Regions from separate parts of the Homo sapiens genome. Here all the other regions are linked to region 1. The links come from fine-mapping of genetic effects on plasma protein levels. A gene starts in region 1. Each other region holds a variant in brackets. All regions are shown on one strand. Distances are from middle to middle.

The links. PIP is the chance, under the fine-mapping model, that this variant and not a neighbour inherited with it causes the effect. Sun 2018 read protein levels with aptamers (SomaScan).
Region 2: its variant is fine-mapped to the plasma level of the COLEC11 protein (Sun 2018, PIP 0.95).
Region 3: its variant is fine-mapped to the plasma level of the COLEC11 protein (Sun 2018, PIP 0.95).

Annotation. Positions count from the first base shown.
Region 1 is chr2:3,592,893-3,597,112 of GRCh38, forward strand. It overlaps COLEC11 (collectin subfamily member 11), which reads left to right and starts at 2,220. Exons shown (of 7, transcript NM_024027.5): 1 at 2,220-2,276.
Region 2 is chr2:3,605,220-3,609,439 of GRCh38, forward strand. The region is part of intron 2 of COLEC11 (collectin subfamily member 11); the gene reads left to right. Among named protein-coding and RNA genes, the nearest start is that of COLEC11, 12 kb to the left of the region's middle. The variant C/T (reference allele first, on the strand shown) is at 1,875.
Region 3 is chr2:3,429,252-3,433,471 of GRCh38, forward strand. The region is part of intron 5 of TRAPPC12 (trafficking protein particle complex subunit 12); the gene reads left to right. Among named protein-coding and RNA genes, the nearest start is that of TRAPPC12, 52 kb to the left of the region's middle. RefSeq lists an enhancer at 1,386-1,886. The variant A/G (reference allele first, on the strand shown) is at 2,424.

The DNA of each region.
Region 1 (4,220 bases):
TTTTTTGAGGTTTTCAGCAGCATTTTGTAGTTTTCAGCATGTAAGTTCTATATATGTTTTGTTAGATTTACACCTAAGTATTCCTTTTTTAAAGCAATTGTAAATGATATTATTTTGAATTTTGGTGTCTATGAGTTCATTGTTATTTTATAGAAATCTGCTTGGTTTTTCATTGTTTATTATTTTTTTGAGACAGAGTCTCGCTCTGTCACCCAGGCTGGAGTGCAATGGCACAACCTCAACTCACTGCACCCTCTGCCTCCCGGAGTCAAGTGATTCTCCTGCGTCAGCCTCCCGAGTAGCTGGGATTGCAGGCATGTACCACCATGCCTGGCTGATTTTTGTATTTTTAGTAGAGATGGGGTTTTGCCTTGTTGGCCAGGCTGGTCTCTAACTCCTGACCTCAGGTGATCCTCCCACCTTGGCCTCCCGAAGTGCTGGGATTACAGGTGTGAGCCACCACGCCTGGCCTACTTGGTTTTTTAAATGTTTGCCTTGTATCCTGTCACCTGTCACACTGATTTAATAGTTTCCAGGAGCTCTTTTGTAGACTCTGGGATTTTCTAAGTAGACAACCATGTCATCTGCAACAAGGGACAGAGTTATTTTATTTTTCGAATCTACATGCTGTTTATTTCCTTTTCGGGCCCTGCTGGTGTGCCTAGAACTTTAGCACTGCATTGAGTAAGAGGTAAGAGTGGACACCCTTGCCTTGTCTTGATCTCAGGAAGGAAACATTCCATTTTTGCCCATGAAGTATGATGTTAGCTGTGGCTTTGCCTTTGACAGATGCTCTTTATCAAGTTGAGGAAGGTCCCCTGCACCTATTTTTCTGAGAGTTTTTATCATGAAAGGTGTTGGTTTATGCCAAATGCTGTTTCTATATAAATTGAGATATTCATTTGATTTTCTTTGTTAGCTTGTTAATGGGTTTTTATCAAAGGAGCTTTGAATATTGACATAGCCTCACATTCCTGGATGAAACCCCATTTGGTCATAGTTGATAAATCTTTTTCTATATTGCTGAATTCTGTCTGTTAATATTTTATTAAGGATTTTCTCATCTATATTCATGAGGGTTATTGGTCTATAGTGTTTTTGTTCTGTCTTTGTCTGGTTTTGGTATCAGGGTAATAATCAACTTTATAAAATGAATTGGTAAATATTCCCTCCTCTTCTATTTTCTGGAAGAGGATGTGTAGAATTGGTGTTAATTTTTCTTTAAACGTTTTGTAGACCCTCCTGTGAAACCATCTGGCCCTGAAATGTCTTTCTGGGGAGCGTTTAAATTGCAAGTTCAATTCCCTTCCTTGGCATAGGGCTGTTGAATTATCTGTTTCATGCTGGGCATGTTGTAGTTCGTGTTTTCAAGAAGTGGTTCATTTTGTCTAAGTTGTCAAATTTATGTATAACTTCAATAATACGTTTTAAATAAAGAATCCATTATTTTTCCTTAATTTTATTATGTGTGTGGAATTTGTGTTTTTACAGTTTTATTTTATGATTTCTCAGTCTAAATAAATATTCACCTTTGAACCTAGCTTCTTATGATTGTAATTTTATATGTATCTTTTTCTTAAAGAAGGTTCCGCTATCCCCCAAAACATGCAAGATTCGGGCTGCATAGAAGCTGGATCTGTCCAGCCCCTGACTAACATTTGTTTCTGGCATTAAATGAAACTTGCCTTTAAATGAAACTTAAATGCGTAGAGTGAGTTTCCGGACTCACGTGTGGCCAGGTCTCCACAGGCCGTGGTCAAGCTCTTGCTGACTTTTGAAGCGAAATCCCATATGAACAAAGGAAAGGAGATCAGTCAGCTGCCCTCGTTTCTGTCTGATTGGTGCCAGGTGATGAGCGTCCCTCCTCTTTATGCTCTTTTGAATTTCCACAGTAGTCATGCTTATTTTTTCAAAAAACGAAAAGAAAGAAGAGAAAGCCAAAAAAGAAACAAAATTGGGATGTTCGGGTTGGAGAGTTAGCAGGGGCATCTCCAGGAGGGTCCTGCCCCCCACCCCAAAGCCGGCCTCAGGGAGTTCCAGGCGTTCCCACACTCCCCAGGCAGGACGGTGGACGCAGCGCAGACAGGAAGCTCCCCGAGATAACGCTGCGGCCGGGCGGCCTGATTTGCTGGGCTGTCTGATGGCCCGGGCCGAGGCTTCTCCCTGCGCCTGGGACTGCGGCCGCCTCTCTAAATAGCAGCCATGAGGCGCCTGGGGGCAGTGTCCTCGCGGGCCAGCGACGGGCAGGACGCCCCGTTCGCCTAGCGCGTGCTCAGGTAGGAGACTCTGCCCGGGGCTGCAGCTGAGGGTTTCACGGGGCTATGACAGTGCAGAGGGGAGGCAGGCAGGCTTCCAAACTGGGCGCGAGGTGGGCTCCTGCTGAGCGAGGAGGATGGGAATCTGTCCCTAGATCCAGGCAAAAGATTGAGTCTCAATAAATCTGGCACCAGAGTTCCAAAGTTTGATTAGTTCATGGCGGAAATTCGTGGAGCCTATTGATGAGATGGGATCCGACCCATGAGAGGTGCTGGATGATGGAGTCACCCTCTTGGGTGGCAGATTTCAAACAGCCCAAGGCCCAGGGGGCTAAACAGTCTTCGCTAATTCCAAACCGCAGTGCAGTACCTGGTCTCACAACCTGACGATTGTTCCTGAGCCTGAGCAGCGTCTGACGGGCCAGGCGGACAGCAGCCACGACTGCCCCCAGGGACCAGTGGCTCTGTGTTGGGCTCAGGAACGGGGATCAGAGAGGTGGGGGAAAGGTGGGCCTTGCTTTGGCAACTTTCCAGGGAAAGACTTTGAGTTCAGATGGGGTCATCTAAAACCAAGTGGGGTCATCTTGTCTCCAAAATTGGAAAGGAGGAAAGTTTCCTAGGGCCGCTGCCTCCTACCTGGATGCCTTGCGCTAGGAACTGGCGGTCTTTTTAGAGCTGAGGTGATGTGGTCGTTCTCAATTTAAAGATGAACGTTTAAAGCCATCTCATGTGCATAGCTGGAATTTTGGTTTGATGGGAAGCACTTTGCCTGTGGTAGGCAGAGCACTGCCCCAATCTTTCACAGCTATTCGATTTTGTTTACAATTTTGAAAAATCCATGTACCGTAGAAGAGAGCACACCGGTAATGTGCTGACCGCTGGGGGAAGATAAGAGAGGATAGGTGCCTTCTTACTCTGTGCTCTTGGTAAGAAGCTAAGAGGAGCGTGTGCTGTTGTGGGTGGAATCCAGGCTGCCCCAGAAGGTGCTCTGTCACTGTAGGGAGGGAAACACCGCGGTGGGGCTGGGGCAGTCCCCAGTGAGAGGAACCTCCTCATGCTTCAGGGATGTGGTTCTTAGGAGGTATTTGTGGTGCCTGTAAGATGCTGGGCCTTGCTGTAGATACTTAATGAAAAAGTAGAATAGCATGTTTGGCAACTGAAGCCATGATTTTTTCTCATTGTCTATTTCATTTTTTTTTTTTTTTTTGAGATGGACTCTGGCTCTGTCACCCAGGCTGGAGTGCAATGGCACCGTCTTGGCTCACTGCAACCTCCGCCTCCCAGGTTCAAGCGATTATCCTGCCTCAGCTTCCTGAGTAGCTGGGATTACAGGTGTGCATCATGGCACCTGGCTAATTTTTGTACTTTTTAGTGGAGAGGGGGGTTTCACCATGTTGGCCAGGCTGCTCTCGAACTCCTAACCAGGTGATCTGCCCACCTTGGCCTCCCAAAATGCTAGGATTATAGGCATGAGCCACTGGGCCTGGCCCCATTGTTTATTTCATTCATAACATGTATTTCCTCTCAGGATTCCACGTTTAACCCCCTCTCCCCTGCTTGTCAAGTCTGCCCCTTCCATTGATGGGAGGGCCCTGAGCGTCTTGGGCCCTGGCTGGGAGATAAGGATGTTGTTCTTAAAGAGGTCCTGGGGGTAGCTGTGGCTTCTCCGTTTACAAAATGGAATTCCTCTTCTAAGAAGGCAGTCAGAGGGCGAGACCTCTGGGAAGCAGAGACTCCTTCGGGCGCCTGGGTGCCCTCACCCTGTGCCTACCTGCCCTGGTTCCTGCTGTGCGTCTGAGAGCGCCCCGCTGCAGGGCCTGTGCCTCCTTTGTGCCCATAGGCCTAGCTGGGGCCCCTCGCAGGAAAGTGGACAGAAACTCTGTGAATGGGCAGCGGGGTCAGTGAATGAGTGGAGCGAGTGAAGGCATGAGAAATCCCAGCCTGGGCTGTTCCGGGGATCAGTGG
Region 2 (4,220 bases), 12 kb after region 1:
CAGTGTCGGGTGGCAGGGCCGGGGCTGCACCGGCCGCAGCAGAGTCCAGGCCGCCGCTGAGGGGAGTCACGTGGGTGCCGAGGAGGGGGCGGGGGAGTCACGTGGGTGCCGAGGAGGGGGCGGGGGAGTCACGTGGGTGCCGAGGAGGGGGCGGGGGAGTCACGTGGGTGCCGAGGAGGGGGAGGGGAGTCACGTGGGTGCCGAGGAGGGGAGGGGAGTCACGTGGGTGCCGAGGAGGGGAGGGGAGTCACGTGGGTGCTGAGGAGGGGGAGGGGCGGCCACGTGGGTGCTGAGGAGGCGGGGGAGGGGAGTCACGTGGTTGATGAGGGGGAGGGGAGTCACGTGGGTGCTGAGGAGGGGAGGGGAGTCACGTGGGTCCTGAGGAGGGGGAGGGGCACATTGACCTTTTGCAACCTGAATCCGGTCCGCCCCCTCCTCATCCGCGGTCCGCTTGGGCCTTCAGCTTCTCCTGTGGAGCGTCTGCGGCTCTTTTTATTGAAACATTAGAGAAAAGTAGATTCAAACCCATGATCAAAACAGTCACCACGAAAGACAAACCCTGCTCAGCCCGTGTTGTACAAAATGAAAAGGTCAGCCCTCTCCCGGGGCACAGGGTCCGGACAGCTCGGGGCCACCCTGCCAGGCTGTGCAGCTCTGGCTGGGGGCTTTTTTCCGGCTGTGTTAGCCCTGCTGTTGGAAACCAAGTGGACTGTCCTGCAGCCCAGACAAGCCCAGTGGCCTTTGTGCTTTTAATTGTGATAAATGTACCTGCTTTAGAAAATGTTTAATTATGTTGGAAGCAACTTAAACTGTTGGATGCCTACGGCTCTCTCAGAAGTTTTGGTGAAAGTGGCTTTGGCCCTGACTTTGTGGTAGCGTGTGTGGGTTTGTGAGTGGAACCTTCAGCTTTAGGTTGGAAACGGTGGCTGTGGAGAGCTGGACTTTTGGCTGTGGAGGTCACGTCCCTGCCCAATGTGGTGGGTGCCTCCGAGTCCCTACGGTTGTCTTCCCTGCGCCCTGCCAGGTCAGTAGCCTGCACTGGTGGGGGCCGTGGGGTGGGCTCCAGGGTCCTTTCTGGGCGCCGCCTTTCCCAGGTGCTGTTGGGAGGGTCCTTCCCAGCTGTCCACGTCCTGGGTCCCCTGGATGTGCTGTCATTTCCCACATGGGTAGGGTCCCTTCTCAACCTTTGCAGGCTGGGAAGTAGGGCAGGTCTGAGGGTGCTGTGGGTCAGCCGTCCTGCGTGACGGGTCACCTGTCCTCCCAAGCCTCGGCCTCCTGGTCCGTGAGGTTGGGGAGGCGATGCCAGCTTGGGGCTCTGTGGGGATGCAGTGGTGGCACCAGGAGTGGGCACACAGTGACCGGGGACCCAGCCCCTGCTCCTTGCTCTGGGACAGTGACTTACAAAGCACTAACCCTGTGCAGGCAGCGAGCCCGACCAGGGAGCAGATCAGGTGTCCGTCCAGCACGTGCCCCGCGAGTCCGCAAGCGAGAGGCGAGCACCAGGGGCAAGGAGCGGTTTAGAAGGATTCAGGATACCCAGCATGTCAGGAATTGGGTTACTCAATGGAGAAAATGGTGTGTGCCAGCAGACTTCATCCCTGCCGGCCCCAGCATGTGCCGTAGCCCCCCAGGGTCGCTGGAGGTCAAAGAGGAGAGGCAGCGTGCGGCACAGTGCCAGCTTCTAAGGAAACAGACACACACGCAGTCACCATTCATTAGACAAGCGTCCGTTGAGAATCCACCAGGCAGGCTCAGGGCTGGGATGAAGAAGCCGCGGCCTGTCTCCTCACAGTCCCGCCGTTCGGCCCCGGACACGGGGTGGCATCTGGTCTGAGAAACACAGCACGCGCCGCCCCCCCAACCCCCACAACCCC[C/T]TGTGTTTTGGATCCTGAAACCTCTGCCAACTCCACATTTGGCTGGAGAATCTTCCTGAGCACACGAGTCAGGCTGCCGCTGACTGCTGGTGGTGCTTGAGATGACATTTATTTGCCATTCCAGGCCATTTCAGATAATAATAATATATTATCTTTACATTTAGAGGGAATAATATATTGTCTTTACATTTAGAGAGAATGACAACTCCTTTTAATGGGAAAAAAGTCTTTTTTTAATGGTTAAAAAAATGGCTGTAGGTGAGAAAACATTTATCTGTATTAACAAATGTGTTTCCCAGAAATATGAAAGGTCATAGTTCTTCTTATAGGCTTTATCAAATGAATTTTTTTTTTGCTTTTTTTTTTTTTTTGAGATGGAGTTTCTCTCTTGTTGCCCAGGCTGGAGTGCAATGGTGCGACCTTGGCTCACTGCAGCCTCCGCCTCTCAGGTTCAAGTGATTCTCCTGCCTCAGCCTCCCAAGTAGCTGGGACTATAGGCGCGCACCATCAACGCCCGGCTAATTTTTGTATTTTTAGTAGAGACGGGGTTTCACCATGTTATCCAGGCTGGTCTCGAACTCCTGACCTCACGTAATCCACCCGCTTTGGCTTCCCAAAGTGCTGGGATTACAGGTGTGAGCCAACATACCTGGCCTATCAAATTAATTTTAAAATCATTTACTGCCATTCTTTAAAACAACATTGATAAAACCAGTAATGGGGCCTGAATAACATGCGCTGTGGGAGGTTTGCTCTTCTGACACCTGACGGCCTGTCTGTGCCGTCTCCCCTTGTGTAGAACAAGCCAGGCAGGCTGAGGTCCTGGCTTTCTCCTCTCTGACTTCCCATGGCCCTGGGGTGCCGTGGCACTTGTTGTGGCCAGCAGGGATGTGAAGTCGCTGGCACACGAGTTTGTTCAGCTTGTAAGCAGGTGGCGTGACAGTCAAGCACTGTCCACGGATCTTCCTCAACTGGCTATAAATATGTCGAAGTATCTTAGGTTCTCAATAAAATAACTGACATGCGCCTTCCTAGCTGGGTTGGAAATGACCCCAAATACGATCTAGGTAAAAGCTTTTTGTTCGTAGATTTGTACATGATTTGCAGGGAAGCCAAGCAAACAGTAAATGTCAGCCACGTTTTGTTTCTTTGAGCGAGGAGAGAGCTGCGTTGTGGTGATGGTGGAAGTGAGCCAGCAGTTGAAATGTTAGCCTCTCCTGGTAGAGAAATAACTTGTCATTAGAACTTTATGTAGTCAATCATCCTGAAAATGAAAAGGATGTGGGAAAAATGTCATTGTGCTCGCTGGGTCTACATTACAAAATGCATGGAGTGTTGAGTGGGGACGTGTATAGAAATCCTGCTCTGGAGTCATTACCTGCAGGGACATACATCTTTATGACCCCTGGGACCAGTGGACAATGAACACTTCAAACCTTGCCAAATTGGCCAGGTGCAGTGGGTCACGCCTGTGATCCCGGCACTTTGGGAAGCCGAGGTGGGAGGATGACTTGAGCCCAGGAGTTTGAGTCTACCCAGGGCAACAGAGTAAGACCCCATCTCTGGAAAACAAAAAACAAAAACAAAACAAAACAAAAAAACAACCCTGCCAAATTGTGAACAGTGCTTGAAAACAGCCTTGGTTCTTAAGATGCGTGGACAGGGCAAGTCTACAAGGCGGAGGCGACGGGGACCGTGGAGAAACCAGGGCAGCCCCGCCGTGGATGGGAGGCCTCTGTACTCTCTGGTCCTCAGTGCTGTTGGTCCTGAACCAGGGATTAAAATACTTTTTCTCGTGACAACCAGCACGGTGTCTTCCAGGGCATATTTTGTTCAATCCCCATCAGAGCTGAGGAGGACCAGGCTGGGAGGGCTTACGCTGGGTTTTGCACAGGAAGGAAAGCAGTTTCTGACTCCAGGTTTGGGTTCCCCACACTGCAGGCACAGCCGTGAGGCATTTGGGGTGCCTGCTGCCCAGCACTGGCTGAAATGCGCCTGGCCCTGTACAACTACAGACACAGGTCCATTAAGCAGAGCCCTTGGGAGATGGCATGTAAGTGGATTTTGTGATTAGCTGAGAGATATAAAGAAAACGTGTGTTAAATCCTCTTCTTTAGAAAGTCTTGCTGTTTTTAATGACTTATGATTCTTTCTCTCCTGCTTTAGTAACGAGAGTTTGTGGGACACAGTGTAATGTGTGGTGCTTTTCAGGGTCTCTTTCCGTGCCTCCAGTTGTTACTATGAACTATTTTTCTTTGATTTTTTTTTTTTTTTTTTTTTTTTTTTTTTTTTTAGAGACAGGATCTTGCTCTGTCACTCAGGCTGGAGTGCAGTGGTGCACTTATA
Region 3 (4,220 bases), 160 kb before region 1:
TCACACATAACTTGGCAACTGAGCTGTTCTGTCTAGAATTGTCATGCAGCTTCAGGAATTCAGAGGATCGGCGTTGGTCATACTGGTGGAAGATGTCAAAACAAGAAGAATAAAAATAGTGTGCAGAAAACTTGCTCTTAGCCACTGTCTTATCTCTGAAAATTGAACTTCACTTGCATAGTGATACCCTGTATCATGCATCTCCAGGGACAGAAAAAAAGATAAGTATATCTTAAATTTGCCTTTCCTATTCGCGTTTCTCTGATTTTGAAACAGAAGTTCCCTATCCGTGAATTCTTCAGATAGTTGAGGTAGAGTACTCTTGCATTGCACAGGATGTCACTGTTGTTTCCAGATGGATTTGTGCAAATTCAGATATTTGATTTTTCTATGTTGCCCACGTCTATTTACTGTTTACTTTTACTTTACTTTTTTTTCTGTTCTAATAGCTTTTTAATAAAAGCTATTTACTTTTGTTCTAACCCACTACTTCCGTACCTTATGAGAAAGTCTGTTTTGGGATCTGGTTGAATCTATTCTTTGCTCAACAAAAATTGATGTTTATTTAAATACAAATATTAAATACTCGGACCATTAACAAATATTTTTTCATATTTGCCTTAGACATTTTTGTAACAAATGAAAGTACCCATTGCTGATACAGCCTGTGAACCTCCTCCCAATTCAGTCCCCTCCCAGAGGCAGTCACAATCATGGTTTGTTGTGTATTCTTCCAGGTCATGTTTTTACATATTTGCTTCATACACACACATATACATACACACAGAGAAATACATATACAGAGAGAGACTATTGTCTTATAAGCTTTGTAAATGTACATCATGAGCATATCTGTCTTCATTTGCTTTTTTTTCCCCACTTTCCATTATTCATATCCATCCATATCCGTATCCATAAGGATGAACAATTAGGATCTTTCCACCTTTCGGCTATTATGAGCAATGGTGTTATGGGCATCCTTGTACATTTCCCTTTGTACATGTTCAGGCGTTTCTCTGAGCTGTAAATTTAAAGTGGCATATGTGAGAGTGACCATGCTAATTTCCACTCCCAGCCACAGCCTGTCAGTTTGTTTCCCCACTCTTGTGTAACTAAAGATTGTCAGACTTTCACCAGTGAGTCTAAAATTCTACCTCCTGTCGCAACTGACGTCTTTCTGATTTCTGCCGAATTATGTGTCCTTTGTCTGTCGGAGTCTCCTCTTTGGTGACTCACTCTTTCATAATCTTGGCCTGTATTTCTATTGGGTTATCTTTGTTATTAATTGGTTGAGGTTCATTCTATATAGCAGGTATTTAATCCTTCATCTGTTTTGTATTTGGGAAATATTAATATCTTCTCCCATTCTGGGAAATACTATTTTCAACCCTGAAAAAATAATTCTAGTTTAAAAATACAAACATAACCTTTTTTGTTCGCAACATGACATGTTTTAGGAGTATCTTCTTTATTCCACATACTGTTATATCAGGAATAATAAATGCAAAGAAATCATGCCTATGTCATTGCCAAGTAGGCTGAGACAAGTAAAGACATTTACCAGACAGCTTTCCAAAACGTTTCCTAAGGGAGCTGCTGCACACTGTTGCTGGGACCTTCCGCTGGGTGTGGGAGGAGCTCTGCACACTGTTGCTGGGACCGTCCACTGGGTGTGGAGGAGCTCTGCACACTGTTGTTGGGACCATCCACTGGGTGTGAAGGAGCTCTGCACGCTGTTGCTGGGACCGTCCGCTGGGTGTGGAGGAGCTCTGGGAGATGCGGTGTTGGGAAGAGAGTCTACACAGTTGCTGACTTGCAGCTCTTCACCTGGAGCTTCCAAGAGCTCTGAGGCAGGCCCGCAGAGCCCCTCGTGCACACTTGTCAAAGATGCTCTCTCTCCTGGCATACCCTTGAGGCCCTAGGCCACCTGCTGCCCTCGCCGTCTTCCATCGAGTACAGTGGGATGCACTTAACGTGAGTGCTCCCGGGATCTCATCCCACAGAGTCTTTGGCCCTGTAGACAGACAGTCTCTGTAATCTTGTAATCTCCCCACAGCACAGCCGTCTGCCTTCACTGGCACCTCAGCATCTGCAGGGAGCATCCCGGTCCCAGGAAACATCATCCAGCCCAGAGGGCGGCAGGGTCGCCGTCGCCATGGATGCCAGCCTTTACCCAGCACTAAAAGTATTTTTGTTTTTGTTTGTCTTAAATGTTGATAACTTCATAATAACTATTTACGTTAGGGCTTTAAAATACCTTTCCAAAATCCTACAAAGTTTCTCTTTTGAGAGCCATTCTTCAGATCCCTGTACTAGCCTTCTTTCTTTAATTTTCTTTTAGATTTTTTTTTTTATTTTTTAAATTGTTACACTAGTGCAGATTGTTTCTCCCATTATAGGGTTTGCAGTCATGAAAAGTGTTG[A/G]TAGGGATTATATCCATGAAAATATTTCTAGAACATTCATTCATTTTATATTAACAGCTTGCATTGGTGTGGTACATTTGTTACAATTGATGAACCAGTATTGGTACAGCATTATTAACAAATGTTTATAGTTTACACTTGGGTTCACTCTTGTGTTGTACATATTCACTATGTTAAAGAAAATTAAATGTCCATTCCTGACAAGTTTAATTTCATCCTCTCTCAGGCAGTTAAATTTTTCCAGACCCCCACCACCATCTTTTTAATCTGTTGTTTGGAATTACCCCTCTCGTTCCAAAGAAACATTCACAATGGCAGTGAGCATGTAAACTTTCATAGTGCTTTGAATTTTTAAAGTACCACATTCTGCATTAGATTGCTCACTTCAAGTTTCCATGCAACTAGAGGGAAAATAGGAGCCCAAAAGATCTTCCCGCTGGAAATAAAGCAGCTTGATTATCTTCACTATGCAGTTTAAGAAGTATAGTGCTGCTTCTAATACTAAATTCAGATCTGCATGTTTAGACTAAGTTACAAGAGCTGTAATGACGTCACAGGAAATGGTACTTCAGAACTTAATCCGTGCGGATTACCATCAGGTCAAATTAAAGTGGATGGGGCAAACACTTCCATTAATCGGATGCCGAATCTCTCTACTCTTCCATCAGCTGTCTGCTCCTCTATGTGCATAAAGGCACACTGTCACTGGATCTTTCTTCCTTTTTCATCCTCCCTCCAAAATCATGAAATTCACATTTTGAGTTCTCAAATTAAATTCTGAAACTTTTTTTTATCAACACATAACCATATGTGATATCTCAGAATTAAATATTCAGCATGTTTCCAGTGTCGGATTTTATTTTTCATGACAAAATTACCTCACCTTGCAGAGTGACCACGTTCTGCTTTAGATTTCCAGGTCACAATGCTTTGCATCAGAACTCCCGAGCGTTGATGGTTGGACATGTGATCGCTGCTTTATTTGTTCGGAGAAGGCTCGTTAGTTCATCTTACTGCTTTTCACTTTGCCCACCGTTTTTATGAAATCTGGCATTTTCAGTCTTTTCTTAGAACAAACTACTAAAAATAGGGGAATTTTCAGTTTGGGGTTCCGTATCTACCATGAGAACACCCAAATGGAGACCTCTCCTTATCCTGTCTGCACAAGATACAGGCCTTGGCCAGTCACTGGGCTGTAGCTGAAGCCACACGTGGATTGCACATGACTGTGGCAGACGCGTACAGAGGCAGTGACCCAAGCCTCAGTTTGTCTTCATGCTTCAGGGCTTTAGTTAAGCAAATCATTTAAATAAGAAATATTTAAGGTATTTTTTTCTCTTAGGACTTTCTCACTGTTTTTGTGTTTGGTTTGTTTTGTTTTGTTTTTAATTTACAATGCCACATTAAAGTCAAAAATGACTTGTTGAGAGCTGTAAGTGTGACACTGTGTGCTTGGCCGGGCACAGACACCAAGCAGTATCCCCAGCGTTGAGCACAGGCAAACCAAAGGCATGGCTTATCCTGCCTGCTGAGGTCAGGATAGGGAAGGACACACCCAGACAGGCAGAGACAGTGGGAAATAAATACAAAGCAGTCTTCCCAGCAAAGCACTCGCGTAACTTGAAAATGAGACGGAAATGCCAGGGCAAACTTGTAAGTTTGTGCCTTACTGAAGAAAGCTGTTAAAATTGGGCAAAGGGTCTGGAAGGCTCCCGCAGACCCTTCTGTGAGGCAGGTGGCACAGGCGTCCAGGCATCATGTCACACCTGCTGCGGCCTCACGGCAACCTAGCTGCCT